Homo sapiens: one gene and its partner. The protein of the gene in region 2 purifies or fractionates together with the protein of the main gene of each other region. This does not show direct contact. Each region holds a gene or a part of one and is shown on either strand. Other genes may lie near its edges.

Region 1 (3,818 bases), on a different chromosome or scaffold from region 2:
AATGTCATAGAAAAATAAAAAATCAATAGAATTAATCAATAAATCCTGGTTAATAAAAGCTGGTTCTTTGAAAGGATTAATAAAATAATCATTAAGCAAGTCTGATCAAAAAAAAAGAGAAAAGGTACCAAAAAAAGTACTGTATCAGAAAGAGAACATACAGATACATACAGATATGTAAGAGTCTGTTTTCTTACACCAGAATACTATATACAACATTATGCTAGCATATATTAAATTTCAATAATGTTAATGATTTTCTAGGAAAACAGAAAATATTAAATTTACTTTGAAGAAACAGAAAAACTGAGAAAAATAAATGATCATGAAAAAAATGAAAAGGTAATTAAATACTGATATTAACTGCCTAAACAACACCAGCAGCAGCCCAGGCAGTCTGCAGTCAAGTTCTGCCAAACTTGAGGGAACAGATAATTCTTCTATTCCAGAGCATAGAAAATGATGGAAAGTTTCCCAATTTAATCAGAGAGGACAGCCTGATCCTTGTTATGAACACAGATAAAAATGGGGTAAACTATATGCCAAACTCAGATACCAAAACCCTAAATAAGATGCTAGCTTATTGATGTGAACAATCCAAAAGTGCATTTTAAATTAGCCCAGGGTTTTAGAGAAAGAAAATCTAGCAATGTGACCACCACTTATGTTAACAATTTTAAGACGAAAATCTACATGATCATATCAATGCATGCTACACAAAAGCATTTGGGCAAAAAACCCAACACCCACCCTTGACTTTTTAAACTCTTAGTAATTAGGCATAAACAGAAATGTACTTAATGTGATAGAATACACTCGGTGAAGATACAGAGGGAATGCTCCCTAAAACCAAGCCCAAGACAAAGATTCCTATTTAACCTCAATAGTCAACACTGCAGCGAGAGTAATCTATGGAAGACAAGGAAAAAAGTAAAAACATGAGAGACATCTGTTGTTTAACAGACAATAAGATCACCTACTTGGAAGAGGCAAACGAATCAAGCGAAAAACTATTAAAACTGAGACAGGCTTTAGTATGGAGGCTCAGCTTCAGCTGTAGTTTGGGCTACCAAATTCAACTCGCTTGCTTGGAGAGTTAATCCTGCAAAGCTAATTTCTGTTGAGGTATTAGGATTGACAAGCCTGTGCTCCTCCCTCCTCCCCCATCTTCAACACTGAAATAACACGGTGTTTGGAACTGGATAACAGAATCTTCCAAAAACAAAAATTGTCCTGAAGGGCTGACTTGTGCCCTTACTCAAAAAACACTTTATCTGCTGCCTGCAGCTCCTACAGTTGCTGGTGGATAAGCCTGCCAACCAGCTCGGCGTAATTCTTCCTGCAGAGGGCAAGGAAGAGCACTTTCACAGGAAAATTTTTTTCCGAACTGTATGCCGCTTATTACATAAACTTACGTGCTGGCAAATGGAGCTCCAGCAAAATAAGATATTCAGAGTCAAACTTCCTTAGGAAAAAAAAAAAAAAAAAGCAAGCACATAACACTAATTTCCTTGCATGGGCACTGGGGAAGGAGGTCGTTACTTCCGCACGCCCGCAGGTCCGCACCACCGGGAAACCCACGGGCACCGCGCGCTGCCCCCGGGCCTTCCAGGTGCACTGCGCCGCGGCGCCCCAGCTGACCCGGGATGCGCAGCCCTAGCCCTTCCCCTGTCACCCCGGCCAGGAAGGGGCGGGAGCGCGGCGGACGCCGAGGGCGAAGGGCTTCTCGGTCCTCTGCACCACGCAGCACCCCCAAGGCACAACAGGGAGGGTGCGGGAGGCTCCCGAGACCCAGGAGCCGGGGCCGGGCGTGCCCGCGCACCTGTCCCACTGCGGCGAGGGCTGGGGTCGCCTCCAGGGCCGCAGCTGTCGGGAGCCACCTGGCTCTCAGTCCCGGGTCCCTGCGACAACCCTCGGGCCCGGAGGGGAGGAGGCGGCCACCTGCCGCTGCCACCTGCGGCACCGGTCCCACCGCTCCGGGCCGGGCAGGACAGGCCAGGACGTCCCTCCTGGGCTGGGGACAGGACACGCGACGAGGGGACCGGGGCCCCCGCGGCGAAGACGCAGCACGCCTTCCCAGAAAGGCAGTCCCGTGCCCCCACGACGGACTGCCGGACCCCCGCGCTCGCCCGCCCATCCCTTCAGACCACGCGGCTGAGGCGCAAAGAGCCGGCCGGCGGGCGGGCTGGCGGCGCGGCTAGTACTCACCGGCCCCGCTGGCTCAGCGCCGCCGCAACCCCCAGCGGCCACGGCTCCGGGCGCTCACTGATGCTCAGGAGAGGGACCCGCGCTCCGCCGGCGCCTCCAGCCATCGCCGCCAGGGGGCGAGCGCGAGCCGCGCGGGGCTCGCTGGGAGATGTAGTACCCGGACCGCCGCCTGCGCCGTCCTCCTTCAGCCGGCGGCCGGGGGCCCCCTCTCTCCCAGCTCTCAGTGTCTCATCTCCCTATCTGCTCATCCTCTGGTCGCACATAATCGATGTTTGGGCGTCCCAAGCCAGATGTGGACCCCATTTCCGCACTCTACACTGGAGGTTTTCTAAGGGTGGTGCCCGGACCAGCAGCTTCAGCCTCATCTGGGAACTTGAGAAAATGCAGATTCTCCGTCCCACCCAGCCTATTCGGTTTTTCCTGCACTAAAACCATGAAGGTGGGGCCCAGCAGTCCACATTCTCGCAAGCCCGTCAAGTGATTCTGAGGCGCCCTCCAGTTTGAGAGCTATGCTCACGGCCTCACCTCCGCCCCGCAAGGAGCCCGGTCTTGCCTGTGGCGCTAGCCGCACACGGACACCTCATCCTGCGGGGCCCGCCCCCCCGCTGCACCCTCACCGCCCAACGCCTCCTCCGGGATGCAGCGGAGGCGCCTGGAAGTCGGCAAGGTCAACATCCCCCTCAGCATCTTCCCTACCCTCACGGCTCCTCCTCCAGGGGTGCCTCATGGCCAGGGGTTAGAAAGAGCCACTGTGTTTCTTGACATGGAAGTGGCCTAAGACCTTAATGAAAACTGCAGGAGTGGAATGACAGAACCTTTGGTCATACTTGAGGGCGTGAAGCTCAAATGAGGAGGAAGGAAAGGATCCAGGGAGAATAACCAACCCTGGCAAGTTGTGGCGCCCAGGTAGAGGGGCGAGCCTAGGCTAGCGGTTCTCGACCAGGGCCGGTGTTGCCCCTCCTCGCCGCCCCGCGTACATTTGGGGAGGTCTGGAGACATTTTTGGTTGTCATGATGCGGGAGTTGCTACTGTTGCCTAAGTGGGTAGACACGAGGGTGCTCCTCAACATCCTACCTGAAGGACAGGACTGCCCCACAAGGAAGAATGATCCGGCCCCAAATAAGAAACCCTGGGCTGGTCAGCAACAACCCCTTTGTTCTGAGAAGAGAGGAGGAAAGAATAAAAGAAGTGGGGTGAAGTTTTGGTTTGGTAGAGGAAACTTGAAGACATTTTCACTGGAAAGGAAGAGAGGAAGAGGAGGGAGATGTCTGTAAGGACGAGCAAACCGGGTGACAGCTGATTTCCTCATATTGAAGTAATGAGTCCTAGTTATAATAAATTCCTAATAAAAACCCAGTTTATCCCTGCAATAAACTTGTCTTTTTTTTTTAAATATACTGCTTGATTCTGTTTGCTAATATTTTATTTACAGGCTTTGCATTGATATGCAAAAATGAGATGGGCAATAATTTTCTTTTTGAATGTCTAATGTTGTTTGGTTTCAGAATCAATGTTATGCTCACATCATAAAAAATTTGGAACCGAGGCAGGAGGAGTGCTTGAGGCCAGAAGTTCGAGACCAGTCTAGGAAACACAGTGAGACCCCCCCA
Region 2 (3,600 bases):
GAGAAGGTTGGCAAGGCCAGCAGGGAGAAGGACAACAGCTGGGGTCAAAGGAAGGGCAAGGGCAGCCCAAGCCTTTTGATCTGCTGCTTTTTAGGGGCCTTCTAAGAAGCGCTTTGCGTTCCTAAAATGGGTGACAGGACTGTGCATGCCCAGAAGCTGGAATCTCTGCCATACACCAAGGGCTCCTGGGTCCTTGTGGCAACAAGGGTTTGGTTGGTTGCAGGATGGGGGAAAGATAACTCTTGGAAGCTCAGCATCTGTAGCAACTTGGCAAATGTGGACAGCAAGTACTCAACCATTGAGGAGGTAGGGTAAGGTGGCCCAAGCTCCTGCTTCTCTCCCTGGGCTCTGAGACTCCTCCAGGCTCCTGACTTCTAACTGGGAGGCCTGGCGCAGAGCCTATCCCACTCTGCTCAGACCAACTGAAGGTCTTTCTGCTGAAGTTTCCCTCCCCTTCAGCCCGCAGGGGGTTCCTGTCTCAGCAGGAATTCATACCAGATTGAAATGAGCAGCTGGGGCTGCTTGGATGGGAGGGTGTCTGGTGGAGAGCTGCGATCAAAGGCTCAGTGTGTGAGGGGCAGGGAAGGAAGAGAGCGGGGTGTTGGTGGGTGGTGGGTGGGGGGTTGTGTGTGCTGGCTTGCCCACAAGCACAAAAAAATGAGAGACAGAGACAGAGGCTCAGAGAAAAAAGACAAGATAAAAGAAAAAGAGAGATAAAGAAAGAGTAACAGAGAAAGAGGCAGAAAAAGACAACAGGCACAGAGACCAGAGACAGAGACAAAGAAAGATATACAGAGACAGAGACAAAGAGAGACAAAGAACAGAGAGGAAAGCAGAAATAGTGAGAGACAGAGAAACATAGAGGCTGGGGATAGAAGAACACAAGGCGCTAGGAAACGGTGAAAGGAGAAACAGAAAAGAGGTCCAGGACAAGGACAGGGAGGCAGAGATAGAGAAGGAGAAAGAGACTAAGGGTCCCGTGTAGTTACTCACTCCACATTTATTGAGCACTTATGCCATGGCAGGCACAGTGGGCGGCACAGATCAATGCAAGTAGACAAATGAAAGGGACTGAGGCTGAGGTGCAGCAATCAAGACGGAAGCTAAGACAGAGATGGAGAAGAGAGGGAGAGGCAGAGATTGCAAAGCGAGATAGAGACTGAGGGAAGGACTGAGAGGTAAGAGAAAGTGGCAAAGACGGAAACTCAAGAAAAAGGGGCAGAGACACGGAGACCCCACAGACAGAGAGCAGGACAAGTAGGGGCAGAGGACAGTGGGAGGAGGGGCCGGAGAAGGGGGCCTGCTCCATGCCCCGCCCAGTCCTTCCTCAGTTCCACCTCCAGCTGTGCTGCCTCCACTCTCCCCAGGCTGCAGTCAGCCTCGGCTCTGGAGGCTCTGGAGGAGGCGCTGAGTGCGGACCGCCTCCTCCGGTCAAATGCTTTTCTGCCTGAGCCCCAGGTCATAATGGAGCCCAGCTCAACTCAGGGGAGGGGGTTAGGCAGTACATGGGCATAGAAAGCCTCGCTTTCACCCAGAGACCAGCTTAAGACCATCCTTTGGTTCCACAGTGCCCTCAGGGGATAGGAAAAGGTGCCGGTCGTGGCGAGGAGGGAAGGGGCAAGCATGTGAATTGAGCTTCCTGAACAGTCAGGGCAGTCGCCTCTTCCTTCCGGGGTCTGTGTGCCAGCCCCCCGCACACCAAGACCTCCCTGGGATCTCAAACTGAGGGAGAAGCCATCTGTAGCAAATGCTGGGCCCTCCCCCATCTCCTCCCACGTCATCCCTGAGAAAATGCCGCAGAGAAGAGGGTGGGCTGGAGAATCAGTCACCTACCCGCTGGTGCCGGGTCTCTGGGCCTGAGAGAAACGCCAGTCCGTGTTGGGCGGGGCTTGCTGTGGAGAAAACAGAGGGAAAGGGGCTGAGTACCCGTGAGAAGTTAGAATGTCACCCGAGCCCCTAGGGATGGGCCGGGAGAGAAGGAGGGGAGTGGGCACAGAGAAGAAAACGGACTAAGAGGGGGCAGGGGTGGACTCATCTCCAAAGACAAAATACACCTCAGGTCTCAGAGGTCTGAGGTACCAGAAACCAAGAGATAAATCACATTTCATCTGACCACAGTGAGCAAGCTGAGACTCCTTTCCTAAAGAAATGGCCCCTTCCTCCCTGCCCCCAGAGTCAGAACTCCTGAGCCAAAATTCAAGGACTGAAGGCATCTTCTGTGGAACTGGGGGAAGAGGTGCAGACAAAGCCCCCTAAAGTGGCAAAGGAGGCTTTTCAATGAGAATTCTACCAGCCCTAGAATGAATTTATTCAACTCCTCAGCTGGGAACAAAGCATCCTCTGCAGCAAGATGGCTGCTGTTCTTGGTAACCCTTTTGGTGCCAGGTTGTGCAGTGACACATTCACAGGGACATCTTCTCTGGGCCCTTGGCTTGCAAGAATCTCTTCCCACAGCTAAATACATTATTAATTTAGGAGTCATGCCAGATTGGGCCTTTGCGGGGCATCCAAGTCCCGGGACACTTCTCACCCCTAGAACTCCGTGCCAGACAATGGTCTGTGACTAAGGAGAAGAGAACAAGGCTGCTCTGTCTGAGACGGAGAAAAATGGAAGGGATGCAGCGGGGAGGGATCCAGCTCCCACAGCCTCCAAGCAGGGCCAACTAAGTCTCCAGGGCTCCCAAGGGGCTGATGTGTAGCCATCTCCCACCTAGCTGAAGGTGTGGGGCTCTGGCCAGCCACTTCATTCCTGAGTCCCTTCTGGTCTTTCCAGGGGGTGTGTTATCCCATCACACACTCTCATGGAGCACTCCTAGAGCCACCTCCTCACTGGTTCTGGGGTGGGCTGGTAATTAATACTCATACTTGCTCCCAGAAGCAGAGAGTGTGAGTATCTCAGATTACTCCAGGGAGAAGGAAGCTCCGGAACTGCCAGTGGCTCACTCAAGGCTCACAGGTGGCAGTGATATGAGCAGAACCCAGAAACCTAGCATTCCAGGTGTATCGGGAGTCACCAGCACCATTCTGGGGCTGCCATGGAGAAGGGCACAGGGATGGCCAGCCCTCAGCCACTGTATTCTTAGACACAGCAGAATCTACATGGAAATGCAGTGATTGTGATAGGAGGAAACGGAGCTGGGGGAACTCAATCTCCAAAAGGATAACTGGCCAAGTTTGCGCTGCGGGGACTGCTCAGAAATGAGGAGCCACAGAAGACTTTCCCCACATGTAAGGTCCTAAAAGGGAAGGAACCCCACCCTTGCCCCATCCCAGCAGAAGCAAAATCCCAGCAGAGGCAACTCCCCTCTCCTGTCCTCAAGCTTTTAAAGTTCCAAGTGCCAAGAAATTAAAAGCACACATTCTGGAGTTAGACAGGGGTTAGAATCTCTCTTACTTGCTCTGTGAACTTGAGCAAGTCACTTGACCTCTGTGAAGCTGTTATAAGAGAGGCATGTTAGTACCTAGCCAACAGCAATGGTGGGAAGAGCAAATGAGATGAGGTTCTCAAAGGAGTTATATAGTAAGTTTCTCTCAATCAGCTATCAAAATCACCTGGGGGTGTTTCAAAATACAGTCCTAGGAGCAGAGTTAGGCATTGAT

Evidence for each region.
Region 1: the proteins of PCDHGB1 (region 2) and SPECC1 purify together in Homo sapiens (co-immunoprecipitation; 3 studies listed by BioGRID and IntAct, with this or other methods). This does not show direct contact.

What each region holds. Positions count from the first base shown.
Region 1 is NC_000017.11:20,007,815-20,011,632, reverse strand, and holds the start of SPECC1 (cytospin-B), read right to left. Parts: upstream 2,275-3,818; 5' UTR 2,209-2,274; intron 1,471-2,208; exon of another isoform or gene 1,416-1,470; intron 1,113-1,415; exon of another isoform or gene 981-1,112; intron 1-980.
Region 2 is NC_000005.10:141,493,099-141,496,698, reverse strand, and holds part of PCDHGB1 (protocadherin gamma-B1 isoform 1 precursor), read right to left. Parts: intron 1,893-3,600; coding exon 1,834-1,892; intron 1-1,833. Other genes in the region: PCDHGC5 (protocadherin gamma-C5 isoform 1 precursor), read right to left, coding at 1,834-1,892; PCDHGC4 (protocadherin gamma-C4 isoform 1 precursor), read right to left, coding at 1,834-1,892; PCDHGC3 (protocadherin gamma-C3 isoform 1 precursor), read right to left, coding at 1,834-1,892; PCDHGA12 (protocadherin gamma-A12 isoform 1 precursor), read right to left, coding at 1,834-1,892; PCDHGA11 (protocadherin gamma-A11 isoform 1 precursor), read right to left, coding at 1,834-1,892; PCDHGB7 (protocadherin gamma-B7 isoform 1 precursor), read right to left, coding at 1,834-1,892; PCDHGA10 (protocadherin gamma-A10 isoform 1 precursor), read right to left, coding at 1,834-1,892; PCDHGB6 (protocadherin gamma-B6 isoform 1 precursor), read right to left, coding at 1,834-1,892; PCDHGA9 (protocadherin gamma-A9 isoform 1 precursor), read right to left, coding at 1,834-1,892; PCDHGB5 (protocadherin gamma-B5 isoform 1 precursor), read right to left, coding at 1,834-1,892; and 11 more. UniProt on the Homo sapiens protein: Potential calcium-dependent cell-adhesion protein. May be involved in the establishment and maintenance of specific neuronal connections in the brain.